Regions from separate parts of the Homo sapiens genome. Here region 1 is linked to region 2. The links come from fine-mapping of genetic effects on gene expression. A gene starts in region 2. The other region holds a variant in brackets. All regions are shown on one strand. Distances are from middle to middle. Region 1 holds the start of CATIP (ciliogenesis associated TTC17 interacting protein). Region 2 holds the start of TMBIM1 (transmembrane BAX inhibitor motif containing 1).

Region 1 (16,176 bases), 67 kb after region 2:
GACCAGCCTGGCCAACATGGTGAAACCCCATCTCTACTAAAAATACAAAAATTAGCCAGGTGTGGTGGCGGGTGCCTGTAGTCCCAGCTACTTGGGAGACTGAGGCAGGAGAATCACTTGAACCTGGCAGGAGGAGGTTGCAGCTGAGATCATGCCACTGCATTCTAGCCTGGGTGACAGAGTGAGACTCTTTCTCAAAAATAATTAAAACAAACAAATAAATAAATAAAAATAATAAAAATAAAAATACAAAAATTAGCTGGGCATGGTGGCACACTCCTGTAGTTCCAGCTACTCAGGAGGCTGAGGTAGGAGAATCACTTGAACCCAGGAGGCAGAGGTTGCAGTGAGCCAAGATGGCGCCACTGCACTCCAGACTGGCAACAGAGTGAGACTCTCTAAAAAAAAAAAAAAAAGCGCCTCACCAGGAATAAGTCCAGTCAAAGAGTTTGCTATGTTGTCATTGTTGTTATCATTATTGTTACATGTATTAGAACTGTAACTTGCAGAGATATTCATGTAGCAGCTAATTGGATAGTGTGCATTTGAGACTCTGTCTGACTTTCGTTCATATCTTCTAAGGTCATTTTTTTTTTTTTGAGACAGATTACAGGCATGTGCCACCACTCCCTGGTAATTTTTGTATTTTTAGTAGAGATGGGTTTCACCATGTTGGCCAGGCTGGATCTCAAACTCCTGGCCTCAAGTGATCCACCTGCCTGGGACTCCCAAAGTGCTGGGATTACAGGTGTGAGCCACCACACCTGGCCTCTTCTAAGGTCATTCTAATGACCCATTTCTTCACTCTGCCTCTTAAGAATATCAAATGTGGGCCAGGCGCGGTGGCTCACACCTGTAATCCCAGCACTCTGGGAGGCTGAGGCAGGAGGATCACGAGCTCAGGAATTCAAGACCAGCCTGGCCAATATGGTGAAACCCCATCTCTACTAAAAATACAAAAATTAGCTGGGCGCGGTGGTGTGCGCCTGTAGTCCCAGCTACTCGGGAGGCTGAGACCTCAAGAAGAATTGCTTGAACCCGGGAGGCAGAGGTTGCAGTGAGATGAGAATGCGCCACTGCACTCCAGCCTGGGTGACAGAGCGAGATTGCGTCTCAAAAAAGAAAAAAATATATATCAAATGCTCCCTCTGCTGGACAACACCTCAAGCTTGTGCTGAGCCCCAAACCTGCAGTGTCAGTTCCCTCCAAGGTCTGGGTGTAGTAAAGTGGGTTGATGGCCCTTTAAGAGGCACTGTCCAGCTCTGGTTGCCATGGAGACAGCTGGACACAGACCGGGTAGAGGCAGGCCCACAGCATGTCCTCCAAGGTTTACTCCACAGGTGGGAAGAGGACTGCTGGGGCTGGAGGCGGGGATCCTCTTCTTTCTTCCCAATCCACCCTCGGGGTAGTCTTAGAGGATTCTGTTCTTGGGTGCTGGGGCCAGGACTGAGGTACCCTGCCTTGCCTCCCTGACCCCTGCCCTTCTCCCCAGGGTCTGCCATCTTAGCCTCTCATCCCTCTGTAGGCTCCAGAGCTAAGGACCACCAGCCCTCGGGTCCGGAGTGTCTGCCACTCCCAGAGGCCAATGCTGAAGCCATCGACTTCCTCAGCTCCCTCCGTGAGCTCAGACAGTGTCGGGGTTGGGGGTGCGGGAGGGGTGCAAGTCTGGAGAGGAGGGAAGAAAGTCCAGTCTCTCTCTCTCTCTCTCTCTCTCTCTCTCTTCCTTGATTCTCCTGGGACTCAGAAAAGGCCTGAGGCCTGTTTGTTGACATTCTTCAAGGGAAGGCCCCCCGGGGACATGGGGACATGGGGCAGGAGTCTTCACCTGTCCGTGCCAGTGAGGAAGGCTGTGGGATGAGGAGGCAGGTGGGGACTGTGGGGACACTGGTGGTCATGGGGTCAGAGGATTGGATTGGGGCCCAGGAGCAGGGGCTTTATCTGTTCCCACGGGCCCCTCACCCCAGACAAGGAGGAGCTACAGATGCTGTTCTTCTCTGAGACGCTGGCCATGGTCTCAGACACCGGGGAGCCTCAGGGAGAGCTGACCATTGAGGTGCAGAGAGGGAAATACCAGGAAAAACTCGGCATGCTGACATACTGCCTCTTCGTGCATGCCTCTAGCCGAGGCTTCTTGGACAAAATGCTCTGCGGAAATTCCCTCCTGGGTAGCGTTCCTACTGCCTGATGCCCGTCACTCTCCCCTTCCTCCAACCCTCCCCTCCACCAATTCCTAGAATCTTTTTTCAGGACCAAGCCCTTGGCTTTGCCTTGGACCAGGACAAGGCACGGGGTGGGAGAGGGATGAGCGAGTTCCTCATGGACTCGGGATGAGGGCACATCTTACCCATCCTGTAGTTTTTCTGGGACCGTATTACACCTAGTCCTCCAGCTGCGCCACCACCTTCCCTTCCTTCAGCCTCTGACCCACATCTCCTGTGACGTCAATGCCTGTGTCCCTGCACCCCAGGCTATCTCTCAGAGAAGCTGGAGCTCATGGAACAGCACAGCCAAGACTTCATCAAGGTACTTCCCAGGGCCCCAGCCTTGACCCAATCCAGGGGAGAGAAGACAGATTTTGACTTAAAAAACAGCAGCAACAACAAACCAAAAAACCTATTACATACACAGTGAAGCTGAAGAATAGCAATCGTGTTATGATGCAATGTAAAGCTCAAAAGCAACGCACTTCAGAAAACTGATTTTAAAACACGGGGGTGGGCTGGGCACAGTGGTTCACACCTGTAATCCCAGCACTTTGGGAGGCAGAGGTGGGCGGATCACCCTGAGGTCAGGAGTTCGAGACCAGCCTGGCCAACATAGCGAAACCTCATCTGTACAAAAATTAGCCAGGCATGGTGGTGCACGCCTGTAGTCCCAGCTACTCAGAAGGCTGAGGCAGGAGAATCGCTTGAACCCAGGAGGCAGAGATTGCCGTGAGCCGAGATCGCGCCACTGCACTCCAGCCTGGGTGACAGAGCAAGACTCCGTCTCAAGAAAAAAATTAAAAAACAATGAGGGTGGGCCAGGCACAATGGCTCAAGCCTATAATCCCAGCACTTTGGGAGGCCAAAGTGGGAGGATCCCTTGAGCCCAGGAGTTTGAGCCTGGGCAACATGGCAAAACCCACCAAAAATGTTTATAAATTTTGTACAAAAAATACAAAAAGTAGCTGGGTGTGGTAATGTGTGTCTGTAGTCCCAGCTACTTGGGAGGCTGAGGTGGAAGGTTCAGCGGAGCCCAGGAGGTCAAGACTGCAGTGAGCAATGTGCGTGCCACTGTACTCCAGCCTGGGTGACAGAATGAGACCCTGTCTCAAAAAAAAAAAAAAAAGAAAAAAGAAGAAAAAAGATGTAGGTTGGGCACGGTGGCTCACGCCTGTAATCCCAGCAATTTGGGAGGCTGAGGCAGGCGGATCACCTGAGGTCGGGAGTTGAAGACCAGCCTGACCAACATGGAGAAACCCTGTCTCTACTAAAAACACAAAATTAGCCGGGCGCAGTGGCTCACACCTGTAATCCCAACACTTTGGGATGCCGAGGCAGGTGGATCATGAGGTCAGGAGTTCAAGACCAGCCTGGCCAAGATGGTGAAACCCTACCTCTACTAAAAATACAAAAAGAAAATTATCCAGGCATGGTGGTGGGCACCTGTAATCCCAGCTACACGGGAGGCTGAGACAGGAGAATTGCTTGAACCCAGGAGGCGAAGGTCGCAGTAAGCCAGGATCACACCACTGCACTCCAGCCTGGGCAACAGAGCGAGACTCTGTCTCAAAAAAAAAAAAAAAAAAAAAAATGTTGGGGATGGTTTCTGGTTTCTGTGGGAAGGTTTTTAGACTTGAGTAGTTTCCAGTGTGTAAACAGGTCATGTTCACATTCCACAAGTTAATTAAGTGGCTGGGGCTGGGTGTGAGGGGCACAGAGCTGGGAGACTTGGAGGCCAGGTGAAACAGGCCCCCAGGGAAGGCTAGGCTCTGGGAAAGGCCAGCCCACCAGGCCTCCAGGGAGGCACTGGGCTCTCAGGCTGGAGGAGGGCTGGTGTGGGCTGGGTTCAGAGTTTGGGTATCAGGAGAACTTATCAGTGGCAACCTGCTGTCCCTGCACCTGGCCCACCCCCATCTTTTAAAACCAGTGTTCTGAAGTGCACTGTTTTTGAACTTTATATTGCATCATAACACGACTGCTATTCTTCAGCTTCACTGTGTATGAAAGGTGTTTTTTGGTTTTTGTTGCTGCTGCTTTTTTTTTTTTATTTTATTATTATTATTATTTTTGAGACAGAGTCTTGCTCTTATCACCCAGGCTGGAATGCAGTGGTGCAATCTAGCTCACTGCAACCTTCACCTTCCGGGTTCAAGCAATTCTCCTGTCTCAGCCTCCCAAGTAGCTGGGAATTACAGACATGCACCACCACACCTGGTTAATTTTTGTATCTTTAATAGAGATGGGGTTTTGCCATGTTGGCCAGGCTGGTCTTGAACTCCTGACCTCAAGTGATCTGCCCGCCTGGGCCTCCCAAAGTGCTGGGATTACAGGCATGAGCCACAACACCTGGCCCTGCTGCTTGGTTTTTTGTTTGTTTGTTTGTTTGTTTTTGAGATGGAGTCTCAAAAACAGCCTGTTGCCCAGGCTGGAGTGTAGTGGTGCGATCTCGGCTCACTGCAACCTCCGCCTCCGGGTTCAAGCAATTCTTCTGCCTCAGCCTCCCAAGTAGCTGAGACTACAGGCATGTGCCACCACACCCAGCTAATTTTTGTATTTTTAGTAGAGACGGGGTTTCACCGTGTTAGCCAGGGTGGTCTCAATCTCCTGACCTCGTGATCCGCCCACCTCGGCCTCCCACAGTGCTAGGATTACAGGCGTGAGCCACTGTGCCCGGCCCGGCTGCTTTTTTTTTAAGTCACAATCTTTAAACCTCAGTTTTCTCATTAATGGAGAAGGGTCAGGTGACCTCTGGGGGACCCAGGGAGTCCCTGATCCTCCCCCGCATGCTCTGGCCCTCAGTTCCTCATCCTCCCCATGGAACGGAAGATGAGTTTGCTGAAGCAGGATGATCAGCTGGCTGTGACCAGAAGTATCAAGGAGGGTGAGGTAAGGATGAGAGCCAGATGGGAGTTGCACTACACACTGTGAACCCAGAATATCTGAGACAGGTCCAGATCAATTTAGAGAGTTTATTTTGCCAAGGTTAAGGACGCGCACATGACACAGCCTCAGGAGGTCCTGAGGAAATGGGCCCAAAGTGGTTGGGGCACAGCTTGTTTTTTTTTTTTTTTTTTGAGACAGAGTTTCACATTTGTTGCAGAGGCTGGAGTGCAATGACGTGATCTCGGCTCACTGCAACCGCCACCTCCCGGGTTCAAGTGATTCTCCTGCCTCAGCCTCCCGAGTAGCTGGGATTATGGGCATGCACCACCACGCCCGGCTAATTCTGTATTTTTAGTAGAGAGGGAGTTTCATCCCTGTTGGCCAGGCTGGTCTCAAACTCCCGACCTCAGGTGATCCGCCCGCCTCAGCCTCCCAAAGTGCTGGGATTACAGGCGTGAGCCACCACGCCCAGCCTACAGCTTGGTTTTATACATTTTAAGGAGACACGAAACATCAATCAACACGTGTAAGATGTACACTGGTTCACCAGACGTAAAAATACAAAAAATTAGCCAGGCGTGGTGGCAGGCGCCTGTAGTCCCAGCTACTCGGGAGGGTGAGGCAGGAGAACGGCGTGAACCCGGGAAGTGGAGCTTGCACTAAGCTGAGATCACGCCACTGCACTCCAGCCTGGGCGACAGAGCAAGACTCCGTCTCAAAAAAAAAAAAAGATGTACATTGGTTCATTGGAAAAGGCAGGACAACTCGAGGCAGGGAGGGGGCTTCCAAGTCATAGGTAGATAAGAGACATGCTTTTAAGTTTCCGATTAGCCTTTCACTGAATACACAATTTACATGCTATGGGGGTTAGAAAAGTAGTCACTTATGCCTTACTCTGGCTTAGTGAAACAATAGAGCAGAGAAAGCCATCAGATATGCATTTATCTCACGTGAGCAGAGGGATGACTTTGAGTTCTGTCTGTCCTTTGTCCACAAGGAATTTCCTTGTGGGCAAATAGTGAGGGAGTTATATAGCTTTTTTTTCTCTTAGTAGCTACCTTGTTTAGGAATAAAATGGGAGGCAGCTTTGCCTGAGGCAGTTCCCAGCTTGACTTCCCTTTGGCTTAGTGATTTGGGGTCCCAAGATTTATTTTTCTTTCACAATGTCCTCTTCAGAACTCTGAGCGGGGACCAGATTAGATGAAGCCAGGAGTCCAGACTAACGATTCATTCATTAGGCTGGGCGCGGTGGCTCACGCCTGTAATCCCAGCTCTCAGAAGCAAGAGGCAGGAGGATAGCTTGAGCCTAGGAGTTCGAGACTTGCCTGGGCAATATAGCGAGACCCCGTTCTCCAGAAAAAGGAAAAAAAAAAAAGACAAGGATTCATTCATTAAAAACCATATGACCGGCTGAAGGCCAGGCGTGTGGTGACTCACGCCTGTAATTTCAGCACTTTGGGAGGCCAAGGCGGGCGGATCACTTGAGGTCAGGAGTGGAGACCAGCCTGGCCAATATGGTGAAATCCCCTCTAATAAAAATACAAAAATTAGCTGGGCGTAGTGTCGTGAGCCTGTAATCCCAGCTACTCAGGAGGCTGAGGCAGGAAAGTCGCTTGAACCTGGGAGCTGGAGGTTGCAGTGAGCTGAGATCGCACCACTGCACTCCAGTCTGGGCAACAGAGCAAGACCCTGTCTCAAAAAAAAAAAAAAAAAAGGCTCACGCCTGTAATCCCAACACTTTGGGAGGCAGAGGGGGCCTATCACCTCAGGTCAGGAGTTCAAGACTAGCCTGGCCAACATGGTGAAATCCGGTCTCTACTAAAATTACAAAATTTAGCCAGGCATGGTAGCCTGTAATCCCTGCTACTTGAAAGGCTGAGGCAGGAGATCGCTTGAACCAAGGAGGCGGAGGTTGCAGTGAGCTGAGACCACGCCATTGCACTCCAGCCTGGGTGACAAAAAGCGAAACTCTGTCTCAAAAAAAAACAAAACCGTATGCCCAACACCTGGCTTGCCCACCCTCCTGTCCCCTGCCCCTTCCTGGTTCCAGGACCCTGACCCAGATCAGTTCTGAACAGGAAGTGAAGACTGGAGTGACTTCTTTCCCCTGGAGCTCAATCAAGGGCTTCATCTCAGAGGCTGCCAACCTGGTGCTGCTCAGGGTGATGGCCTGGCGGCGGATGGTGCCCAGCAATGCCCGCTTCCTGACCTTGGACACCGAGGGCAAACTCTGCTATTTGACCTATGTAAGGGGTCCCCTTGGGCAGGGGACTTGGCTTGGGAGCGAACTAGAAAAGGCGTGAAAAGCACTGAGATGGGGAACAGCTGTGGAGTAGAAAAGGGAGGCAGGTGGGGAGAAAACAGCACAGGTGGGAATGGGGCTTTCAAGGGCAGGAAAGCATGTTTGTCTGGGAGTGTGGGGCAGATGAATTGAGAGTGACTGAGAAGTGGGAACAGTTCAGAGAAGCAACCCTTCCGCACAGAAGTCAGTCCAGGAAAAATAAATATAGTGCAGGGCTGATTTAAAAAATACATCATTTTGGGCCAGGTGTGGTGGCTCACGCCTGTAATCCCAGCACTTTGGGAGGCCAAGGCGGGCCGATCACAAGGTCAGGAGATCTAGACCATCCTGGCTAACATGGTGAAACCCCGCCTCTACTAAAAATACAAAAAAAAAAAATCAGCGGGGCGTGGTGGCAGGCGCCTGTAGTCCCAGCTACTCAGGACGCTGAGGCAGGAGAATGGCGTGAACCCGGGAGGCAGAGCTTGCAGTGAGCCGAGATCGCGCCACTGCACTCCCGCCTGGGTGACAGAGCGAGACTCTGTCTCAAAAAAAAAAAACAAAAAAAAAAAAACGTCATTTTGGCCAGGCGCAGTGATTCATGCCTGTAATCCCAGCACTTTGGGAGGCCAAGGTGGGCAGATCACTTGAAGTTAGGAGGTCAAGATCAGCCTGGCCAACATGGTGAAACCCTGTCTCTACTACAAATACAAAAATTATTAGCTGCGTGTGGTGGCAAGTGCCTGTAATCCCAGCTACTCGGGAGGCTGAGGCAGGAGAAGCATCACTTGAACCCAGGAGGCGGAGGTTGCAGTGAGCTGAGATCGCACAACTGCACTCCAGCCTGGGCAACAGAGGGAGACTCTGTCTCAAAAAAATAAATAAATAAAAATAAATCATTTTTTAACTTTAGGAAGTGTAACATGTCCAACTTTACTGAAATATTCCTTTATTATTTCTTAACCCCAAAGGGTGTTCCGTTTTTGTTTT[G/C]TTTTTTGTTTTTAACTAAAATTTCATAATCAGCATGCCTAGGACTTCCTGCAATCAGTGATTTTAAAGCCATGCCACTGAACACACAATTTCCAGTGAGACACTTTGGGGGCTGATTTGTGTTTCTTTGACCATCTTTGTAAATTACATTCCAGGCTTGTCTATCAAAACACACCAAGCAGCAATGCATTTGACATGAACAAGCACAATCCATTCCCCTCCGTGTTCTTTGAAACATGTGTTTAACATTAGCACTTTTTTCTCCATAGCTGCAGCTACAACAGGGGTTTAAGTTTTAATCACAACAGGGACAGCCTGCCAGCAACAGCACAGGTCTGAGGTGGCCACAAATCTGTCTGGTCTCACACCTCTGAGCCTCACTTTACCTCCACCCACTGGCCCTAGTAGCTCATCCTACCTCTCCGCTCCCACACCCCCCCGCATACCGCTTCTCATCCCTGTAACAGAATTTGCCAACTAGAAGCACCTGGTCAGCGAGATGACATGGGAGGGGTCAGGGCAAGGGCAACCTGGAGCTAGCTCCCTATGAGGGGTCGCCAACTCAGCTTGGAGGTTTGGAGATGCAATATTAAATGTCTTGAGGTTGTTATGAGATGGAGAAAAGGCTAAGGTAAGATGATGGGGAGCCCTTGGCGGGCATCCACCTTACCTCCCACCCCCCAATTTTGGCTGTTGCCAGCAAAACCTGGGCTTCCAGACCATCCAGGTAGACCATCAGCAGGCTGAAGTCTTCATCGTGGAGCAGACTGTCCACGCGGAGGAGGGCATCCCCATGTCCTGCCAGTACTACCTGCTCTCCGATGGGTGAGCTGCTGATGGTGGGCCCAGAGGGGTGGTGCTGAGCTTGTAGGTGCTCAAGGAGACCGGCTGCTTCTGGGGATAGCACCAGGAAGAACTGGCATTGAGATAGGAGTGTCCCTCCGCTTTATCCATATCATTCACTCTTTCTTCATTTATTTGCTCGTCCTCTTAACCCTCACAGTGCCTCCCAAACCTTCTCACTGCACACCACAGGCCTGGGGTGTAGCTAGTGCAGCCACCACTGTGTAAGGGATAATACTGAAAAACACCAAGGTCTGAATGACTGCACACTTGATGAAATCACTGTGCTGGAAGAATTGCCTGTGGCAGGCTGCCGTGCAGTCTCCAGCAAAGCACTGGCTCCAAATCATAAGAAAATTCAGGGCTGGGCGTGGTGGCTCACACCTGTAATCCCAGCACTTTGGGAGGCTGAGGCGGGCGGATCATGAGGTCAGGAAATTGAGACCATCCTGGCTGACACGGTGAAACCCCATCTCTACTAAAAATACAAAAAATTAGCCAAGTGTGGTCGTGGGCGCCTGTAGTCCCAGCTACTCTGGAGGCTGAGGCAGGAGGATGGCGTGAACCCAGGAGGCAGAGCTTGCAGTGAGCCGAGATCGCGCCACTGCACTCCAGCCTGGGTGACAGCAAGACTCCGTCTCAAAAAAAAAAAAGAAAGAAAAAGAAAATTCAGGTGGAAGAAAGAGTTTCTTTCTGTTTTTTTGTTTTGTTTTGTTTTTTTGAGACAGACTCCAGTCGAGTTTATTTCTTAAAATTTCAGAATAGATATTCACATAATCACTACACTGGGGAAAAGGTAATCAAAACATTGTTGGCTTTATCTCATAACTTAGTATGTTTTCGGTTTTGGTGCGATCATAGCCCACTGCAGCCTCCAACTCCTGGGCTCAAGCAATCCACCTGCTTCAGCCTTCCTAGTAGCTGGGACTACAGGTATGCACCACAGCTCCAGGCCAACCTTTTTATTTTGAATGCCGCATAGCAGGAGATTCCATAATTTTTCTTTTCTTTCTTTCTCCTTCCTTCCTTCCTCTTTCTCTCTTTCTCTCTCTCTGTCTCTTTCTTGACAGAGTCTCGCTCTGTCACCTAGACTGGAATGTGTGGCATAATCTTGGCTAACTGCAACCTCCGCCTCCCAGGTTCAAGTGATTCCCTTGCTTCAGCCTCCCAAGTAGCCGGGACTACAGGTGCCTGCCACCACGCCTGGCTAATTTTTGTATTTTTAGTAGAAACAGGCTTTCACCATGTTGGCCAGGCTGGTCTCAAACACCTGACCTGAAGTGATCTGCCCATCTTGGCCTCCTAAAGTGCTGGGATAACAGGCGTGAGCCACTACAAGTGTGAGCCACTGCGACAGGCCTCTTTCTCTTTTTGAGACAGTCTCGCTCTGTTACCCAGACTGGAGTACAGGGATGCAATCTTGGCTCACTACAACCTCCACCTCCCAGGTTCAAGTGATTCTCATGCCACAGCCACCAAAATAGCTGGGATTACAGGCGCCCACCACCACGTCTGGCTAGTTTTTTGTATTTTTAGTAGAGACGGCGTTTCACTATGTTGGCCAGGCTGGTCTCAAACTCCTGACCTCAAGTGATCCACCCATCTCAGCCTCCCAAAGTGCTAGGATTACAGGCGTGAGCCACCGTGCCTGGCCAAGAGGCTCCATGATTTTCGAGTGCTGTACCTCTAAAGATCCTTTTTGTTTTTTTTAAACAGGGGGCCTAATACTTGCCAAGCCCTGTGCGTTATTTGGAGATCCAGAAATGAACACCACCCAGGAACTTAATAAACAAGAGAGGGAGGCAGAAGTAAAGAGGCCCGGGACAGGTCTCTCAAGGGGCACTGTCATGTAGGAGTCTGCTTAGGCTGCCATAACAAAACACCACAGGCTGGGTGGCTTCAAGAGAAATATATTTGCTGGAAGGCAGGAAGTCCAAGATCATGGTGCCATCAGGGTTGGTTTCTGGTGAGGGCTGTCTTCCTAGCTTGCAGACAAGTGCCTTCTCAATGTGTCCTCACATGGCCTTTCTTCCGTGCATGAGTGAAGAGAAAGCTCTCTGGCATCACCCTTTTCTCATAAGGGCACTAATCCTATCTGATTCGGGCCCCACCCTTATGACTGCATGTAAACGTAATGACCTCCCCAAAGCCCCTACCTCCAAATACCACCACACTGGGGGTTAGAGAGACAATTCAGTCCATAGCAGGCGGTCTGGGAAGATTCTCACTCTCACATGTTGTGTTGCACTCCAGGCACCTGGCCAAGAGAATACAGGTGGGCTCCCCAGGGTGCTGCATCATCACCAAGATGCCCATCTTGAGGGAAGAGGGTGAGTGAAGCCCAGGCCTTGTGCAGGCAGGGAGAGTTAAGGGGAGTGGGGAAACCTGGGCCTTCCAGGATGCAGGGGGCTGGACCCAGTGTGCTGTAAACGGGACAGGAGCCTGGAATCAGCTGGAGAACATCTGCCCTCCAGCCCCTGACCCCAAGCAATAAGAGGAGGATCTTTCCTACTGGAAGTCCCTTCCTGCAACTCTGCCCATGTGGGCAGAATCCTGGGGTTTCACCTGAGCCTTCTGTTTGGGTGTTCTCGGGATCTCGCTGTGTATCCAAGGAAGGTTCCGGGGTAGGGACGCCCAGCCTTCCTTGTTCCCCACCTAGATGAGATTGAGCCACGCCCAGTGTTTGAGAAGAAGCCCCTGGTATGGGAGGAGGATATGGAGCTCTATTCGAAGTTCCTGGACCGGAAGGTGAGGGGAGGCTCCACCAGCCTGGGGTTCCCATTCCCCCATGGGCCTTAAATTCATTACTGATCTCTGCACCTGATTGAAATGCACACCCGTAGGGGCTAGAAGGCTCCAGCGCCCCTTAGCTCTCCTTGGAGCGAGCGGCTGGGGGCTCCTGGGGCGCGGGGGTCCCGTCCGGCTGAGGCTCGGGCTCTGTCCCCTGCCAGGAGGAGCTCCGGCTCGGCCACGCCAGCTATCTGCGGCAGCACCCCGAAGCCCACGCGCTCATCTCCGACTTCCTGCTCTTCCTGCTGCTGCGCCAGCCGGAGGACGTGGTCACCTTCGCCGCCGAGTTCTTCGGCCCCTTCGACCCGTGGCGTCCGTCGTCACCGGCCTTGGGCTCCTCCCACCGGCCCAACCCTTTCCGCTCCCTGGAGCCGGAGGGAGACGCCCGCTCGGGGGCGGCCTAAGCGGGGCCCAGGCCCGGACAGGGCAGGAAACCAGGGGTCGGGCTGGGACGCGGGCGGGACGCGCCGGGGCGGGTGCGCTTTCCGGGCTGCGGTTTTGGGGGAATAAATGGGGCCCTCCCGCTTCTCTGCAGCGCCCGTCGACAGCGTCCCTGGCTAGCGTCTAGTGTCTCGGGCTAGAAATAGGAACCGTTACCGTCGTACCTCGAGTAGATTTCAGCCTTTCCTCCTAGATGCTGTTTTCATCATTATCCCCATTCTACAGATAAGAACACAGAGGCACAGAAAGTTTAACTTTTGGAGTTGGCAGGTGGGGAGGCAGAATTTGAACCTCAACGTTGGACTTGAAAGCCCACACTCGGCCGGGCGCGGTGGCTTAAACCTGTATTGTCGGCACTTTGGGAGGCCGAGGCGGGCGGATCACCAGGTCAGGAGATCGAGACCAGCCTGGCCAACACGGTGAAACCCCATCTTTACTAAAAATACAAAAAATAGCCGGGCATGGTGGCGCGCGCCTGTAATCCCAGTTAGGAGGCTGAGGCAGGAGGATCGCTTGAACCCCGGAGGCGGAGGTTGCAGTGAGCCGAGATGGCGCCATTGCACTCCAGCCTGGGCGACAGAGCGAGACTCCGTCTCAAAAAAAAAAAAAAGAAAAGAAAAGAAAAAAAAGAAAAAGCCCACACTCTTACTAGGTTAGCACGGAGGGGCGGGCGCCTTGGCACTCAGATCTTACGGTCGCAGAGCATAATTGCCCAACCAACCGCCCAAAGAAAAATAACAAGCGGCGGGGGGTTGGGGAGGGAGGAGGGCCGACGTGGACCACCTCTGGCTTAGCTCAAACCCCCTGAAATCTCGCAAACGCAGCTAGCACTCAGGCTCGAGCTCCTCCCGGTTCCCACTGACACAGAGGGACCCCCAGACTCCGGAGGTGGGGGGTCCGAGAGTAAAAATAATGGGCAGATGATCGTCGCATCCTCTGGGCTCCTCGTGGAACGTCAGTGCTGGCCAGTGGCTTCTGTCCGGATGCTCAGTAGCAAACTTTAGGCAAGCTCCCCTGAGGGAGTGGTGGCGGTGCAGGCTCTCTCCTTCCCTTGTTCGTTCGTCAGACCTGCTGCTGCAGACTCCAGAGACGCTTTGCTCTCTAGTGGACGGTATGACCAGACACCTACAAGGCTGGGTTGGATGCGGGGCTGGGGGGAGGACCTGAGAATCACAGACAAAAGGCTTCATGGAGGACCATCACTTGAGTTGAACCTTGAAGGATTTTTTAAAAATATTTCTTATTGTCCCTCTCCCTTATTTCAAAAGAAATACATGTTCATAAGATAAAACTTGGGAAAGGGAGATAAACCAAAAGAAGAAAACGAAATCATTTTACTCTCTCTACCTAGAAGCAGCTGCTCAACGTTTTGGCAAATATCCTCTCTACTCTCCTATGCATAAAAGCAGCTGGTGTTTGTTGAGTGTTCACTCTGTCAAGCCCTTTTCTAGATTGTTTGATCTGGTCTTTATAACTCCAGGGAACTTTATTTATTTATTTTTGACTGGTTCTTGTTCTGTCACCCAGACTGAAGTACCATGGCACAATCACTGCTCACTGCAGCCTTGACTTCCTGAGCCCAAGCGATCCTTCCACCCCAGCCTGAGTGGCTGGGACTGCAGGCATGCACCACCACACTGGGCTAAATTTTTTTTTTCTTTTTTTAAGAGATGAGGGTCTCACTATGTTGCCCAGGCTGGTCTCAAACTCCTGGCCTCAACTGACCCTTCCACCTTGGTCCCCCAAAGTTCTGGGATCACAGGCATGTGCCACTGCATCCAGCCTCAATTTCCTTTTTCTTTTTTTTTTCAGAGACCAGTCTCCCTGTGTTGCCCAGGCTGCTTTTGAACTCCTGTGCTCAAGCAATCCACCTCCCTCAGCCTCCCAAAGTGCTGAGGTTACAGGCATGAGCCACTGCACACAGCCTCTATTTTTGCTATTATAAACAGTGTTGCACTGAACATCCTTGTAGCTAAATCTTTGCATATATCAACAAGTTATTTCCTTAAGGATACATTCTGACAAGTTACATTGCTGAACTAATTTTAAGACTTTTATTTTAGCATATTGCCAAATTCTACAGGGGTTGGATTTCTGTTAAGGTGAGGTAAAGCATTCCAGGCAAAGCAAATAACATGAGCAAAGGACAGAAGTAGGAAAGTGTAATGCATGTCTGTGGTCAAGAGCAGTGGTACCCAATAGAACTTTCTGCAGTGATGGAGAGTTGAGGGTGGGGACTTCAGGAAAGGCCTCTCTAGGGTCTCAGTTGAGCTGGGACCTAAATGATAAGGAGTCAGACTTGTGAAGAGTTGAGGGAAAAGCCTTCTAGGCAGAAGGAACAGCAAGTGCAAAGGCTGTGAGCATGGCATGTTGGGAACAGGCCATTGAGGCTGGAGCATGAAGGGGCAGGAGAAAAACACGCAGTAACTGCAAGATGGGCAGGGCAGGATCACAGAGGGTCGCCTAGGCTCTGGCAAGTTCTCTTCATCTGTGGGGAACCGAAACAGGCTGACCCAACCCCATGCACCCAGAACATTCCCAGAAAGATCGACAGAGCTCCCTTTAGTCCAGAAACCCTGCAGCGGTTGGAGGAGGCCAAGGCAGCAGCTTGCAACACACGCAGGTTCATCCTTCACTGAGCTCTTACATCAGGTGCCTGCAATAGGGAGGAGGAGTTGAGCCACTTCCCTGTCTCCTCTGTGATGTCTATTTCAAAACTGGTTTATTTTAAAATCTTAGTATTTGTTCCCAGAACTACTGTGACTCCGTCCTCTTGCTCCATAATACTGACGTACATTTCTCAGCCGGCAGCAGTGGCTCATGCCTGTAATTCCAACACTTTGGGAGGCCCACGCGGCAGATCACTTGAGTCTAGAATTTTGAGACCAGCCTGGATAACACAGCAAGACCCTGTCTCTACAAAAAATACAAGAAGTCAGCTGGGCATGGTGACACAAGGCTATAGTCTCAGCTACTCAGGAGGTTGAGGGGGGAGGATTGCTTGAGCCCAGGTGTTCAAGGCTACAGTGAGCTGTGATTGCACCACTGCACTCCAGCTTGGGTGACAAAGACAGACTCTGTCTCTAAAAAAAAGTTAAAAAAAAAAAACAGAGATGCATTTCTCAGCATAAAGAAAAAAACATGTTCAGCAATTCTGAAGTGCCAGGCACTGGATCTAGGGATGCTGTGGCCAGCAAACAGGCCAGGCGCCACTTGCATCGCCCACAGTCAGCCTAGAGAGGAAGTGACAGCCCCCAGTAATCCCATGGGGGGATATAAAAGTATAGGGCATGGGAAGGGCTAAGAAGGGAATGTAGACATGCAGTGAGAGTGCCTAATGCAGCCTTGTCCTAGTATGGGGCTCCAGGGAGGAGGAAGGAAATAAACAGTAATAACAGCCTGGACTCAGTGGCTCACACCTGTAATCCCAGCAATTTGGGGGCCGAGGCCGGATGATTACTTGAGGCCAGGAATAGGAGACTGGGCTATGTAGTGAGGCCTTGTCTCTACAACAAAACTGATTTATTTATTTAGAAGCGGAGCTGTGCGTTGTCACCCAGGCTGGAGTGCAGTGACACCATCTCCGCTCACTGCAACTTCCACTTCCCAGGTTCAAGCGATTCTCCTGCCTCAGCCTCCTGAGTAGCTGTGACTACAGGCGTGGGCCACCATACCCAGCTAATTTTTGTATTTTTAGTAGAGAAGGGATTTCACCATGTTGGCCAGGCTGGTCTCGAACTCCTG
Region 2 (16,176 bases):
TCTCAAAAAATAAATAAATAAAATAACTAGGGAAGGAAGGGAACCACTTAGAGTAGTTGAACCACTTCCAGTACTTACTATATAACTAAGGAAGTACAGGTTGAATATCCCTCATTTCCAAAATCCAAAATGCTCCACAATCTAAAACATTTTGAGCACCAAGATGACACTCAAAGGAATGCTCACTGGAGCATTTCTGATTTCGGATTTTCAGATTAGGGACGCTCAACCAGTAAGTATAATATACATAGCCCCAAATCCGAAAAAATCCAAAATCCATGTGCTTCTGCCACTGTAGATGTCTGCCCCCATGGCTATCGTGACTATATGCTCGAGTAGGAGAGTAAAGTGTTTTCTTGGGGGTGGAAGGGAGTTGGGGTGGGTAAAAGAAAAGGGAGGGAAGGAAATTGTCAAAATGGTCCCATTTTGGATAAGAGACACTCAACCTATAGTAACTAAGGCACATCTGATCCTTGCAACAGTGCTGTGAGGTATTCTTACCCTCATCCCACTCTATAGATGAGATAACTGAAATTCAGAAAAAAAGAGATCTAGGGTCCCACAGCAGGCAAACAGCAGAGATGAGTTTAAGCATAGATCTCACACCTGATTTAAAATTCAGCCTCTTTGCTTTTATATCAGGCAGGAGTAGAAGCCCCTGAGGCATCTGTAGCACGCACCTGCGTGAATAGGCAGCACCAGGGTGGGGCCAAGGCAGTAAAGATCAAAACGATAGATAGAAAGGAGCTGAGCAAGCTGTTGTTGCTACCATTATTTCTTTCCCCTGCGGAAAGTTGATCTGAAGCCTGGGTCCTGGGCTAGGAGGTGGGGACCTGAAGTTCTTGTCCTGGCTTTGGGACTCACTCCACTGTGAGAGCCACATCTCTAGACCCAGTTTTAACATCAGTAAGACAATTCCCCTCAAATGAAAGAATGGCCAGGCGCGGTGGCTCATGCCTGTAATCCCAGCACTTTGGGAGGCCGAGCCAGGCGGATCACTTGAGGTCAGGTGTTCGAGACCAGCCTGGCCAACATGGTGAAACCTCGTCTCTACTAAAAATACAAAAATTAGCCGGGCATGGTGGCACATGCCTATAATCCCAGCTTCTCGGGAGGCTGAGGCAGGAGAATCACTTGAACCCAGGAGATGTAGGTTGCAGTGAGCCGAGACCATGCCACTGCACTCCAGCCTGGGCGACAGAAAAAAAAAAAAAAAAAAAAACTGAAAGATCAAAGTCCACTCTGCCAGTTTCTGATTCTGAATGAACAGCCTAACAGGAGGCTTCAGGGCAGAATGGCATGGCTCCCCAAGAACCTACACCAGGGGGTCACTACTGATGTGCAACTGTTTCCAAGGACATCTTCAGAGGCAGAAGTACATGGCATGTTCTCAGTATGGGGCTGTCCACACCCTCCCAAACTGTCCCCATAATGCTGTCTGGACCCTACGGCCAGCTCTTCCTGGGTGATCAGTTACGCCCGAGCTAAACAGTATATAACACTCTAGGAAAGAAAGAGTAGGAGGCAGGAAGTCCACTGACCTGGGTTCATGAACTAGCTGCAGGAATCCAGGCAAATGACCTCCCCTGGCCTCCTTTTATCCCTAAATCAGCCCACGTGGGGGAAAGGAGTAGGGACTTGTTTATGGGAGCCACAGTGGAGAAACAGAATCACCTAGCCAGGCATTTCCCAGACTGTTCTAAAGAACACGCCCCAGGAGACGTTAATGAATGAGTGCTGGAAACAGATGACTCTTGAGAAACAATCCACACCCCCTTCTTGGAAATTCACAATGGCATATTCTGCCCCTGAGAAGTCCTGCAGTAAGCAACCCTGTTCAGCTTTGTTTAACCCAGTGTTCCTTCAAACTCCCTTAAGCCTGAGCCACTTTTATCGAGGCAAACCTATTAACACCCTGTGGGATGCTGACCCAGGCCACCTTTGTATTACAGACACCCAACCCTGAGAATCATTCATATCCTAACTCCTCGTCTCTTATAACCTCTGTGCGTACACCCAGCTGCCCCTCAGAGCAGTCACATGAAGTACTAGACATGCCCTCTCACTCTCAGGGGGTCAGCCCAGTGCCAGGATCTCTGGCGAGGGTCCTCCCCTTCCCCCATTCCACACAGCTGCTATCCCACCGTGGGATTTACTGCCAAGGGCCGGGGGACATATCCAGCTACCACAGAACCAGGAAACGGGCACCCCTAACCTCACCTCTGTGCAACGGGGCAAAGCACAAATCATTACAGACAAAAGTGGGAGCTCATTAATATCTCCCTTCCCACCAATGGAGGTACCTGCCACTGTAGCCTGTCGACTTCTGGATATCATTTCTACTTCAAAACAAGACCCAGGTTTTGGCCTAGAATCCCAGAATCTTAGGGTTGGAAGATTCTGTCAAGGTCATCCCTTCCACTGTGTCCCCAACAGAATAGGTCCAGAAGGCCCATGTCATGATCAGACATGTTGTTAGCAGAACTTCTTCCCAGAGAATTGTATGAGCTTCCACTCTCTGGTCGTCCCAGTTCAGCCCTCTGAAAACACACAAGTATGTGTGTTTCCCTTCTCTGTGGCTTCTGCTTTTTCTGAAAGGCCCAGGGTGAGGCCTGCGGTTGGAGGTGCTCTGAGGTAGACAGCGTCTGGCTGAGGCACCCATTCCCAGGGGAGGAGGCTGAGCCCAGGTGGCTATTACCCCAGCTCATGACATGAGGCTCTCCCAACACTTACAGGATAACCCATCATTACCTCTCTGAAGGGCTCATTTTTACAAGTGAGGCCTTGAGGTCATAGCACAGAAAGACAGGGCCCCTGACACTGTGGTCCTGCCTCTTCCATTTAAGCTATAAACTGGTTCTCTGGATCCTCATGACTGGAGAGACAGAGAGAGGAGGCAGGTGAGAAGGAAGTATGGCTCCCCCTTTGCGCCAATAAAGCAGCCCCAGGAGGCACCTGGCTCCCCTGCCACCACTGGCCAGCCCAAAGTCGCCAGCTTGGAAACCAAAGCTCACTAATGAGATGAATATTTCAGAGCCCAGAGAACTGGACACCTGAGGGCCCTTCCATGACATCTGGCTCTGACCTGCGTTCCCAGGCCTACTTATCCCATGTCCAGGGTGCTCAGGTAGAACCCCAAACTCCTGGGTACCACGTAGAGGCCACAGAGGAGGGAGAGGAGATGGAGACCCCATAGGACAAGAATTGGTGCCGACCCCACAAGGCCAGGGCCTGGCCTCCCAGCAGCCTCCCTCTGCTTCCTCCCACTGGTCCCTGGCTCCTGCCCCAGTCTCTCCACTTGCTTTCCCTTTTCCCGTTTCTCTGTTTTGTTTTCACTCTAACCCAAAGAAGTCACGAGGAGGATGTTACTCCCCTGTAGTTCTGTGAACCCAGCCGGGAAACAGTGGCTGGAAGTGGGACTGGCAGAGGGCAAAGTCATGGTGATAGAGGTGGCCACTTCCCCATGCCAAACACTTGAGCTGCTCATTGGCTTCTGCCCCAGCTGCAAGCTAGGACCCCCCCTTCCCCACCCCTTAAATATTCACCTGTCTACACCGAGACTGGCCTCAGCGCGTGTGGGGGCAACCTGGGGTCCGTGCCAGGCCCTGGCTGTCTCCCCTCCCTCTTCCCTCTTCTCACCAGCTGAGGGCCATGAAAGCCCTCATCCCACACAGCTGGCCACTCGGGCTGGCATGGTGGATAGGCCCTGCGACAGAGAGGCCACTCGTGCCCGAAAGAGGGAACACGAGGACACCCCCAGACCCTGGCTCCGCTCACCAGTGCCCACAACACGCTGCTGGGCTCCCAAGGCTAACCAGGTGCCACAGACCCGGCCGCCCACCCGCGCGCCCAGGGAGAGCGAAACGCCAAGGGCCAGGAGGGGAGATCCCCATCTGGAACGGGCTCCTTGGGCCCAGGAGCGGGCAAGCCGGGAGCGCGCTCCGAAAAGTTTAGGCGCCCCGGCGCATGGCCGCCCCAGCCCTGGACCAGTCCCCACCGCCCACAGTCCCCAACGGCGCCGGCCCCGGCCCCCTGGCTTGCCTGCGCCGTTCCAGACGGAGCGTTCCTGGCCTCGGAGTGTTGCAAGTCCTCCGGGGCCGGGCAGGGCTAGGCTCGGCTGGGGCTCCGCGCCCCGCCCCGTCGCGCCGGCCTCGTGGGGCGGGGCCTCAGGGCGCCGCCAGGGGGCGCAGGGGTCTGTCCCGGGCGCGCGCGCCTCTCAGAGCCCCGACGACGCCTCACTAATAACACAGGGGTATTTTCGGATTTAAAGGCAATACATGATACTGATAGGAAGCTAGAAAAGACACAGAAATGCAGGGAAGAAAGTAATTTCTCTCCACCCCTCCTAGTTCCCAGGGGGAAGCGTTCGCTTTGGGTCCTTCTTTGGCTATTACATTTCTGTATGTATTTTGTTTTTCTACAGTGGGGTATATTGTATGGTGTTTTGTTTACTGCCCTTCTTTTTACTGTTTTATGATGAACATTTTTCTTCTCACTAAATAGTCTTCAAAAGCACAATCTTAATGCCGTGAAGTATTCCATTGCATGGCTATGCGGATTAAATTAATTTCCTACTGGAGGCCGTTTGTTTCCCATTTTTACATTACAAATAAATCAGTAATTAAAATCCTTGATAATTCTGTGTTTTTGAGATAAATGCACTTTTCGAGTTTAAAACTGCAAACATGCAAACCTAGAATCTCTGTTTATAATTACTCAACCAGGAAAGCAGGTGCTTTCCTCAAGTCAGAATTCAGAAGTCCTACATTGAGATGTAGATTACTACTGTTAGGTAGGTCTTAACCCTCATCTCAGTGAAGAATGCAGTAGCAAAGGAGGAAACAGTTTTGAGGAAGTTCTGAAATATTACTGGAGCCTGGGCATGGTGACTCACACCTGCGATCCTAGCACTTTTGGGAGGCCAAGGCCAGAGGATGGCTTGAGCCCAGGAGTTGGAGACCCAGCCTAGGCAACATAGAGAGACCTTGTCTCAATTTAAAAAGAGAAACATTACCGAGCCTTGCCTGAGTTTCTGTGGTTCCAAAGTCCAAGTTCTTTCCATGACACCAAGGCTGCCAGTAGTTGACCAACTCTGTTTAAAGTGCTTATCTCATGTTAATAGCTATAGGTCAGCACCACACCACCACTGAATGTCCTTTTTTTTTTTTTTTTTTTTTTCCAGACAGGGTCTCGCTCTGTCACCCAGGCTGGAGTGCAGTGGCGCCATCTCGGCTCACTGCATCCTCCTCCTGGTTTCAAGTGATTCTCCGGCCTCAGCCTCCTGAGTAGCTGGGATTACAAGTGTGTGCCACTACACCCAGCTAATTTTGTTTGTTTGCTTGTTTGTTTTGTTTGGTTTGTTTGTTTTGTAGAGATGGGTTTTCACGTTGTTGCATAGGCTGGTCTCAAACCCCTGAGCTCAAAGCAGTCAGCCCACTTTGGCCTCCCAAAGTGCTAGGATTACAGACATGAGCCACCACGTCCAGCCCCAAAACAGAGATTTAAAAAAAAAAAAAAAAAAAAAAGACAGATTTTTAAAAACTGCCCCCCATACACACACTATGTATGTTTATTTCTGTAAATATAGTTTAAGTAGGAGTTACTTAGGGGGACTAGTGGCCGTTATGGTGGGCTAGCTCCCCAGACACCCCAACCCTTCAGTGTACTTCCAGTTCCTACAGGCCAAGAACCTCATTTTAGGAAGTCCCCACCCAAGGTGTGATCTCACCAGAGCAAGTACAGTTCTGCTCAGTGTCTGTCTCCCCCTTGCTCAAGGAGTAGCGCCCTAGGTGAAATGCATGGCCCATGGAATCTGTCCAGATCCCTGACATTTTTTCATGCTCTCTACACTTGTGCTGTCTTAGTCCATCTGGGCTGCTACAACAAAAATACCTTAGAGTGGGTAATTTAGAAACAGCAGAAATGTATTGCTCACAGTTCTGGAGGGTGGGAAACGCAACATCAAGGCACCAGCAGGTTAGGTGTCTGATGAAGGCTCCCTCTGCTTCACAGATATCGTCTGAGTCCTCATATGGCCAAGGAAGGAACAAACAGACACCGCCCCCCCACCAGCCTTCCTTTTTTTTGAGATGGAATCTCACTCTGTGCAATGGCACAATTGCAGCTCACTGCAGCCTTGACCTCCCATGTACAAGCAATCCTTCCAACTCAGCCTCCTGAGTAGCTGGGACTACACACATGCACCACCACACCTGGCTAATTTTTGTATTTTTTGTAGAGACAGGGTCTCACTATGTTGCCCACGCTGGTCTTGAACTCCTGGGCTCAAGCAATTTGCCCTCCTCCACCTCCCAAAGTGCTGGGATTATAGGCGTGAGCCACTGCACCTGGCCACCAGCTTCTTTTCTAAGAGCATGAATTCCATTCCAGAGGGTTCCGCCTTCATGACCTAATCACTTCCTAAAGGCCTCACCTTTTAATACTATAACATTGAGGATTAAGTTTCAACAAATGAATGGAGTGGGGACAACAACATTCCCACCATAGCAGGCCCCTTCTCCAGAAAACACCCTCCACTTTCTAGAACCACCAGGATGGTTAATATCCAAGGAGATTCCATTTCCAACCAGCAATCACCAGCGACTCACATCTGCCCGACTGGGGGAGTGGGACATGGGGCACACGAGGCAAGCCCACACAAGCCTTGCTGCGTGCTTTTTCTCCAGAGCCCTTTTTCTGACTATAGGGTCAAAAATAACACCTGAAGCGCCTGGCCCAGAGCAGCAGTGCTTCGCTGGCAATAGGCATTCGATAAATGATGTTTTTTTCTCTTGGGCCTTATCTGCAAAATTATTAAGTAAGCTTTTATTGTCTGCCAACCAGACAGGAATTTCCGGTTCTAGAAATGAGAAGGCTGAAAGAACACAGCCCCTGCTCTCAAGAAACTCACAGTCTAAGGGAGCCAGTAAAATGACAGATTATTACAATGTTGACAGTTTGACAAGTGCTGGCAGATAAAGAAATATTCACTTGGTTCCTCCAGATCCCAGAGAAAGCTCCTAACCCAGTGTGGGGAATGGGGTGGGGGTTCGGGAAAGGAGTTCAGAGGAGGTGACACCTGAGTAGAGTGTTAGGAGGTGTTAGGAACCAGCCTATTCGGAGGAGGGGAGAAGGTTCTCCAGGCAGAGGGCAAGGGACTTAGGGCCAGTTGCCCCAGCAAGCTAGGATGGGGGGTGGAGGGTGCAGTGGGGTAGAAGGGGTAGGAAATAGGGCTGGCCAAGGAGGCAGGGGGCCAGAAATTGAGATTTTACCCTGAAAGCAATGGGGAGCCAGAAAATAACCACCTAGAGGGAGTTTGGGAGGGTTGGGGAGGCTCTGGTGGTGCCCCTGGGGTAGGGTTCCAGCTTTAGCAAATAAAGATGCAAGGCAACCAGTTTGAGCTTCAGATAAACAACAAACCTTTTTTTTTTTTTTTTTCAAGACAAGGTCTGGCTCTGCACTCCCAGGCTGGAGTACAGTAGTGCGATCTTGGCTCGCGGCAACCTCCACCTCCCAGGCTCAAGCCATCCTCCCACCTCAGCCTCTCAAGTAGCTGGGACTACAGACATGAGCACCACCACGCCCGGCTAATTTTTGTATTTTCTGTGGAGACAGGGTTTTGCCATGTTGCCCAGGCTGGTCTTGAACTCATGAGCTCAAGCAATCCATCCGCCTCACCCTCCCAAAGTGCTGGGACTACAGGCATGAGCCGCTGCGCCCGGCCAAACAATATTTTTTCATATAAGCATATCCCACTGCCCCATATAATATTTGGAAATACTTGTACTAAAAAAAAGTACTCATTGCTTATCTGAAATTCACATTTAACTGGTTGGTTGTATTTTTCCAGCAACACTACCTAGGAGGAAAGTGGAGTCAAGTCCATGGCTGCAGGAAGAGGGGTGGAGGAGTGAAAGGGATTAGACTGATGTTTATTTTAGGACTGGATGTTATTTTAGGTATTTTAGGACTAGCTAAAGCTTAGTGATTGGTGGGAGGGGGTGGTGGCAGCCTGGAAGGGGTGGGCCCAGGTGGAACCTGAAGGACATGGGCAGGAAAAACTTAATTGGAGCGGTGGATCCAGAGAACTTTCTCTGTTGCCACCCTCCAGCCCAGCCCCAGGACTCCACTAATTGGTCCTCCAAACCCTTCTCATAGCTGCCTGGTTACCTAGCATTTAATGTGTTACTCTACCCATGCATTGATCACTAACTTTCTGAAAGAAGTTGCCTTTTTTCTGTTTTTCTTTTTCTTTCTTTCTTTCTTTCTTTTTGAGATGGAGTCTCACTCTGTCACCACGGCTGGGGTGCAGTAGCATGATCTCGGCTCCCTGCAACCTCCGCCTCCTGGGTTCAAGCGATTCTCCTGCTTGGCCTCCTGAGTAGCTGAGATTACAGGCGCCCACCACAATGCCCAGCTAATTTTTGTATTTTTAGTAGAAACAGGGTTTTGCCACGTTGGCCAGGCTGGTCTTGAACTCCTGGCCTCAGGTCATCCACCTGCCTTGGCCTCCCAAAGTGCTGGGATTACAGGCAAGAGCTACCGCGCCGCCCGAAGTTGCTTGTTTTCAGAGGACGTATTTACTGAATTGAGGCATTGAACCCAGCCTGAGGTGAAAGTGCCTGTTTCTCCCCACTGGAGGGCAGAGACAATGTCTCATTCACCCCTAGGCCTGGGCACGGCCCTGACCCAGCATCTGTTGAATTGAATGCCAATGTTCCAAAGTGGGATGGAGGGAGCCTCTCAGGCTTGAATGATAGATGTGTGGGGGATAGATAAGGTAGGGGTGGGGTATGGGGGCTCCTCCCCCTTAAAATTGGCCTTATTATTCATAAACATTATTTAACACTTTCCTAAGGAAATAGAGAGTGGAAAGAATGGTGGATTTGGATGTCTCAGAAGTGAAGTTTTGTTCCAGCTTTGGCACTAAAGGACTGTGAGGCCGGGGGCCCATCTCTCTACTTAGAAATCACACTGTGGCTGGTCACAGTGGTTCATGCCTGTAATCCCAGCACTGTGGGAGGTCAGGGGGTGGATCACCTGAGGTCAGGAGTTAGAGACCGGCCTGGCTAACATATAGTGAAACCCCATCTCTACTAAAAATACAAACAATTAGCCAAGTGTGGTGGCGCATGCCTGTAGTCCCAGCTACACCGGAGGCTGAGGCAGGAGAATCGCTTGAACCTGGGAGACAGAGGTTGCAGTGAGCCGAGATCATGCCACTGCTCTCCAGCCTGGGCAACAGAAAAAGACTCCGTCTCAAAAAAAAAAAAAAAAAAAAAAAGAGAGAAGAAAAGAAATCACAGTGGCTCACGCTTGTAATCCCAGCACTTTGAGAGGCCGAGGCGGGCAGATCACAAGGTCAGGAGATCGAGACCATCCTGGCTAACATAGTGAAACCCCGTCTCTACTAAAAATAGAAAAATTAGCTGGACGTGATGGCAGGCGCCTGTGGTCCCAGCTACTCAGGAGGCTGAGGCAGGAGAATGGCATGAACCCGGGAGGCGGAGCTTGCAGTGAGCCGAGATCACGCCACTGCACTCCAGCCTGGGCAACAGAGGGAGACTCCATCTCAAAAAAAAAAAAAAAGAGAGAGAGAAATCATACTGCATTTCTCTACCTCCTGTGACTTCTGGCGCCTTCCTCAGTTGAGGTCATCTAGGTGAAAGGCAGTGAGAAAGGCACATGGCGGATGTTGATGGTGACTGAAACTGCTGTAACTGGAAGTGGGTGGCACCATGAGGAAGCCAGGCCACGGAACCAGCCTGGCATCCACCATGCTGCAGGCAGGGCCAGCGAAATGCTTTCCATTCTTCCCTGACCCTCAGAGTCACCTGAGCTGCTTGTGAAAACATGCACGTTCCCTTGGGGATACTTCTTTCCAGACCTGTGAATCAGAATCTTCAGTGGAAGCATAAACAAACGCTCCCCAGGTGAATCGCCAGCCACACCAGCAAGCTTTGGTGATAGACAGTCCTGGGTTTGAATCCAAGTTCAAATGTCTTTGGTGGCTTTGTGACCTTAGGCATATTACTTAACTGCTGTGAGCCTTGGCACCTTATCTATAAAAAGGGTGGTAATAATATAGGGTAGTTGTAAGAATGAAAAATAGCAGTTGTCAAATGCTTGGGGCAGAGTTAAAATGTTCATTGTTATTGTTGTTTGTGAGATAGAAGCCCAGTGATTCTCCCAGTGATGAACACAACCTCCTTTCACACTAAGCAGGGCCTGGAGGGATGAACTTGCCCGAGCTGGGAGCTCAGCAGGGCCAGGCTCCAGCTGTGCCCTTACACCCTGCCCTCTCGCCATGGACCTCTGCCACCTCTGCCAGCCAGAATACCGGGGGATTCTCAGCTTTCAAGCCCCTCTCCTCGTCCATCTTGGGCTTCATTCTCCCACTCTCTTGCCCCCCACCTAGGAAGCTCCTCCTCATAGATACTTGCTTTTGTCTAAACAACTCTACTCCCCAAGAAAAGCCAACAGCGATTTCCTCTTATTCCCAACCCACGATATTAGCTGCCTGAGAACCTCTCCTTACCAATAACTGCACCCCCTCCATAATCTCAATTTCAGGCACCCCACACTCTGACCACCATCTATTTTTCCAGCTCTGTGACCGTGATTTGACAATTCTGTGACCATATCAGGATCAACAATCTATTCATCTTACCACCTGTTCCTTTATTTTATTTATTTATTTTATTTTATTTTATTTATTTATTTTGAGACTGAGTTTCGCTTTTGTCACCCAGCCTAGAGTGCAATGGCAGTGCAATGGCGCGATCTTGGCTCACTGCAACCTCCGCGTCCGAGGTTTAAACGATTCTCCTGCCTCAGTCTCCTGAGTAGCTAGGATTACAGGCACCCGCCACCAGGCCCAGCTAATTTTTGTATTTTTAGTAGAGATGAGGTTTCACCACGTTGGCCAGGCTGGTCTCGAACTCCTGACCTCAGGTGATCCACCTGCCTCAGCCTCCCAGAGTGCTGGGATTACAGGCGTGAGCCACCGCACCCGACCTATTTGTTTATTCATTTATTTTTGAGACAGGGTTTCGCTCTCACCCAGGCTGGAGTGCAGCGAAGCAGTCATGGCTCTCTGCAGCCTCAGCCCCCTGGGCTCAAGCCATCCTCCCACCTCAGCCTCCCAAGTAGCTGGGACCACAGGCACACACCACTGCACCTGGCTAATTTTTGTAATTTTTTTTTTTTTTTGAGACAGAGTTTTGCTCTTGTTGCCCAGTCTGGAGTGCAATGGTGCCATGATCTCAGCTCACTACAACCTCCACCTCCCAGTTTCAAGTGATTCTCCTGCCTCAGCCTCCCAAGTAGCTGGGATTACAGGCACGTACCACCACGCCAGGCTAATTTTGTATTTTTAGTAGAGATGGGGTTTCTCCATGTTGGTCAGGCTGGTCTCGAACTCCTGACCTCAGGTGATCCGCCCGCCTCAGCCTCCCAAAGTGCTGGGATTACAGGCGTGAGCCACCGCGCCCGGCTAATTTTTGTAATTTTTTGTAAAGATGGGGTCTCCATATGTTGCCTAGGCTGGTCTCAAACTCCTGGGCTCAAGTGATCCACCTGCCTCAGCCTCCCAATGTGCTGGGATTACTGGAGTGAGCCACCGCGCCTGACCACCACCTCTTTCTTATCTCTCACATCCTCACTTTCCTCCTTGACCAGCTTGGATTCCAATATTATAATTACTCCTTTGCATGCAGCCTCAACTCTACCTTATGGTTCTCAGCAGCAAAATCTCAACTCTGCACCCACATAGCCAAAAGTGAGGGTAAAAACATGCAACGGTCCTGACTGATCTCGCTTTAAGTTCATGCACACTAACTTGTCCATTCATACTAACACACCCATCCTAGGCAATTACTCCACACTTTCTACAGTCCCTTCTGAACTCCCACACCTCCTCTGCAGCCTCACTCTCAGCCTCGACTTTGCTTCCTATGTCTCTGAGCAAGCAATCAGAGAATTGCTGCCTATATCACCACTTGGATGTCTAATAGGTGACTGCTTCTCAAACTTTAATGTGCAAATAGATCGCTTGGGGTTCATGTTAAAATGCAGATTCTGCTTCAGTAGGTTGAGAGTCTACATTTTTTTCTTTTCTTTTCTTTTCTTTTTTTTTTTTGAGATGGAGTCTCGCTCTGTTGCCCAGGCTGGAGTGCAGTGGTGCGATCTCAGCTCACTGCAACCTCCGTCTCCTGGGTTCAAGAGATTCTCCTGCCTCAGCCTCCCAGGTAGCTGGGATTACAGGCATGCCCCACCACGCCCAGCCAATTTTGTATTTTTAGTAGAGATGTGTTTTCACCATGTTGGTCAGGCTGGTCTCGAACTCCTGACCTCAAGTGATCCACCCACCTCTGCCTCCCAAAGTGCTGGGATTACAGGCATGCACCACCACGCCTGGCCATAGGTGAATTTTTAATGGGATTTTTAAATACTAAGTCTTCAAAATCTGGTATGTATTTGACACAGCATATCTCAATTAGGATGTTACTTTTTCATCAGAAATATAGGATCTGTATTTAGATCAAATCTGAAAAGTGTTTGTAAAATGTACATACTTGAGTGTTTTCCAATAACTGAAATAAGCATCAAGGTTTATTTTATTATTGTTTTATTTTTAGAGTAAAATGAAAGCAAGTTTATTAAGAAAGTAGAGGAATAAAGAATGGCTACTCCATAGACAGAGCAGCCAATGTTTAGATTTAAGTTTAAATGAATTAAAATTACATAAAATTAAAAATTCAGTTTTATAGTTGCACTAACCACATTTTATGTGCTCAGTGGCAAGTGGCTAGTGGCTACCATATGAAACAGCACAGATCTATAGCGCTGGTCATTGACTTAAGGGGGAATTCTGGGGGTCAGGGTCTAGATCGTAATTCATCTTGGCCAGATGCCTAGCCCAGGGCCTGCACTCAGTACTTTCTGCTGCGTTCCATTTACTTTTAACAAGTCAAAAACTGACATCTAGGAAGCGGTTGGAACAAGCCACAATCAGTTCCCAGACATGACCACTAGGGGGCAGAGTCTGACTAGCACTGTTTGGCTAGAAAAAGGGAGCCTTGGCCGACGCAATGGCTCACACCTGTAATTCTGCATTTTAGCCAGGCCCAGGCAGAAGCATGGCTTGAGCCCAGGAGTTCGAAACCAGCCTGTGCAACATAGTGAGACCCATCTCTTTAAAAAAATTAAAACATTAGCTGGGCATGGTTGTGCGTGCCTGTAGTCCCAGCTACTTGGAAGGATGAGGTGGGAGGTTGGCTTGACCCCAGGAGGGTCAGGGCTGCAGTGAGCTGTGATTATGCCACTCCAGCCTGGGCAACAGCCTGAGCTACCATCTGTCTCAAACAAACAAACAAAAACGGGAGAAAAGAAAGGGGCCAGGACTCAACCCCAATACCATTAAGATTTATTTAACAAGCATTTATGAGGGGCCAACTGTGTGCCAGACCTGTGGGGATACAGAAGTAAATAAAATACAGCCCCCGCTTTCTTGGAGTTTACAGTCCAGTAGGGAAGGCAGGACAGATATTAGCAACTCATCTCATAAGCAAAGGTATCTTTACAAACTGTAATACATGCACTTAAGGAAAGCTGACTCAGTGCCCTAAAAGAGTGGCACCCAAGGCAGGGAGCTGTGGCTCACGCCTGTAATCCCAGCACTTTGGGAGGCCGAGGCAGGCAGATCACCAGGTCAGGAGATCGAGACCATCCTGGCTAACACGGTGAAACCTGTCTCTACTAAAAATACAAAAAATTAGCCAGGCATGGTGGTGCGCACATGTAGTCCCAGCTACTCGGGAGGCTGAGGCAGGAGAATCACTTGAACCCAGGAGGCAGAGGTTGCAGTGAGCTGAGATAGCGCCACTGCACTCCAGCCTGAGCAACAGAGTGAGACTGCATCTCAAAAAACAAAAACAAAAGAGTGGCACCCAGGCACCTCTTATGTTGGCAGAAGGTGGCATGAAAGAGTAGCTACAGAGGGGATGGGCCGTGGGGGGTGGTGGACAATGGTGCTGTGACCCTTCTAAGCAGAAGGATCAAGCTATGTGAAGGTGTGGAGACACCCCTGAAGCTGAAAGAGCTTGGCATGTTCCAGAAACTTCCAGGAGAGTGGTGTGGCTGGAGAGTGGTGGGCACTGGGGCATGGCCCAAGAGGAGACTGGGGAGGTGGCAGGGGCCAGGTCTACAGAGTCTCAGGGCCTCTTTAAGGACTTCAAATTTCAGCCTAAAGATATCAATGAAAACATTCAAACTCTGTAAAATATTTGAAGAAATTTATTCTGAACCAAATATGAGCGACTATGGCCCTTGACACAGCCCTCAGGAGACCCTGAGAACACGTGGCCCAAGGTAGTCAGGGCGGGGGGACAGGGGCGCAGAATGTATGTGTGTGTTGAAGGGAGCTTCCAGGTTATAGGTAGATTTAAAAATTTTCTGATTGGCAATTGATTAAAAGAGTTACCTAAAGGCCTGGAGGTTTTTTTTCTGTTTGTTCGTTTGTTTGTTTGTTTGTTTTATGGAGTCTCACTCTGTTCCCCAGGCTGGAGTGCAGTTGTGCCATCTTAGCTCACTGCAACTTCTGCCTGCCAGGTTCAAGTGATTCTTCTGCCTCAGCCTCCCAAGTAGCTGGGATTACAGGTGCCCACCACCATGCCCAGCTAATTTGTTTGTATTTTTAGTAGAGACAGGTTTTCACCATGTTGGCCAGGATGGTCTTGAACTCCTGGCCTCAGTGATCTGCCCACCTTGGCCTCCCAAAAGTGTAATCCTTGGGATTACAGGTGTGAGCCACCAGCCCAGCCCTGAACCAGTCTTTCAGGTTAACTTTGGAATGCCCTGGCAGAGGAGGGAGTCCATTCAGATGGCTGAGGTGAGGGGGCATTGAATTTTATTTTTGGTTTACAAAGGAAGCCATTGAGTGATTTTGAGCAGGGCTGGGACATGGGACATGATCTGGGTGGTATTTTAGGAGAATCACCCTGGCTCTGAGCGGTGAATGGGTTGAGGGAATGGAGCCCGAGAGCAGGAAGGCCTTGAGGAGCCACCTTGGCTACAAGATGAAAGGTGGTGGCACCAGCCCCCACCCTGAGGTGTCAATACCCCACGACCCCCATCCCAGACCTGCACTTCTTTTTTTTTTTTTTTTTTTTTGAGCAGAGTCTTGCTCTGTTGCCCAGGCTGGAATGCAGTGGCATGATCTCGGCTCACTGCAACCTCTGCCTCCTGGGTTCAAGCGATTCTCTGCCTCAGCCTCCTGAGTAGCTGGGATTACAGGTGCCCACCACCATGCCCAGCTAATTTTTGTATTTTTAGTAGAGATGGGGTTTCACCATCTTGGCCAGGCTAGTCTTGAACTCCTGACCTCATGATCCACCTGCCTCAGCCTCCCAAAGTGCTGGGATTACAGGTGTGAGCCACCACGCCCGGCCAGACCCGCACTTCTTTGGTTTCATTTGGCTGGTTTCCGTTTGCTCTCCACATCCCCCTCCGTCTTCTCCACCCTGCTTGGAGCTGGTCCTATGGACACCTCAGTGGGCTCTTGGTCCTCCAGCTGCAGCTGAGTTTGGCAGTGGAGCTCTCCAGGAGGAGATGGCAGCAGAGGTGGAGGGTTTGTCTCCTTCTCCCTCCCTCAAGGCTCACCCCAGACTGGCTTATCCCTCAACCAGTGGTCACAGCCCCTATCAGTTGGGCCTGTCCACACAGCTCTGTCTTTGTTTTTTGTTTTTGAGACAGAGTTTCGCTCTTGTTGCCCAGGCTGGAGTGCAGTGGCGTGGTCTCAGCTCACTGCAACCTCCCAGTTCAAGCGATTCTCCTGCCTCAGCCTCCCAAGTAGCTGGGATTACAGATGCCTGCCACCATGCCTGATTTTTTGTATTTTTAGTAGAGACAGGGTTTCACCATGTTGACCAGGCTGGTCTGGAACTCCTAACCTCAGGTCATCCACCCGCCTCGGCCTCCCAAAGTGCTGGGATTACAGGCATGAGCCACCGCACCCAACCTGTCTTTATGTTTTATAACAGCTCCCTTCCTGACCCTTCAGGCCCAGGGGTGGCGACAGTGTCACTAGCCTGGAGAACTGTTTCCAGCACCTGCCGGTAGCCTTGCAGAGCACTAAAACTTAACTTCTCTCAAGCTCTCCTCAGCTTTCCCAGTTTG

Evidence for each region. PIP is the estimated chance that this variant, and not a neighbour inherited with it, causes the effect.
Region 1: its variant is fine-mapped to the expression of TMBIM1 in whole blood (TOPMed, PIP above 0.99).

What each region holds. Positions count from the first base shown.
Region 1 is chr2:218,355,570-218,371,745 of GRCh38, forward strand. It overlaps CATIP (ciliogenesis associated TTC17 interacting protein), which reads left to right and starts at 1,288. Exons shown (of 10, transcript NM_198559.2): 1 at 1,288-1,340; 2 at 1,526-1,618; 3 at 1,965-2,165; 4 at 2,468-2,523; 5 at 5,004-5,090; 6 at 7,166-7,333; 7 at 9,059-9,183; 8 at 11,455-11,531; 9 at 11,861-11,949; 10 at 12,153-12,525. The coding sequence starts at 1,316. The coding sequence ends at 12,395. It overlaps CATIP-AS1 (CATIP antisense RNA 1), which reads right to left and starts at 12,333. Exons shown (of 3, transcript NR_110573.1): 1 at 12,022-12,333; 2 at 11,358-11,458; 3 at 11,096-11,229. CATIP-AS2 (CATIP antisense RNA 2) reads right to left here and starts at 2,397. Exons shown (of 4, transcript NR_125777.1): 1 at 2,345-2,397. RefSeq lists an enhancer at 1,183-1,694 and a silencer at 12,315-12,624. The variant G/C (reference allele first, on the strand shown) is at 8,359.
Region 2 is chr2:218,288,425-218,304,600 of GRCh38, forward strand. TMBIM1 (transmembrane BAX inhibitor motif containing 1) reads right to left here and starts at 4,079. Exons shown (of 12, transcript NM_022152.6): 1 at 4,042-4,079. All of the region lies in intron 2 of PNKD (PNKD metallo-beta-lactamase domain containing), which reads left to right. RefSeq lists enhancers at 1,228-1,727, 2,647-3,611, 3,612-4,574, 4,757-5,603 and a silencer at 3,857-4,336.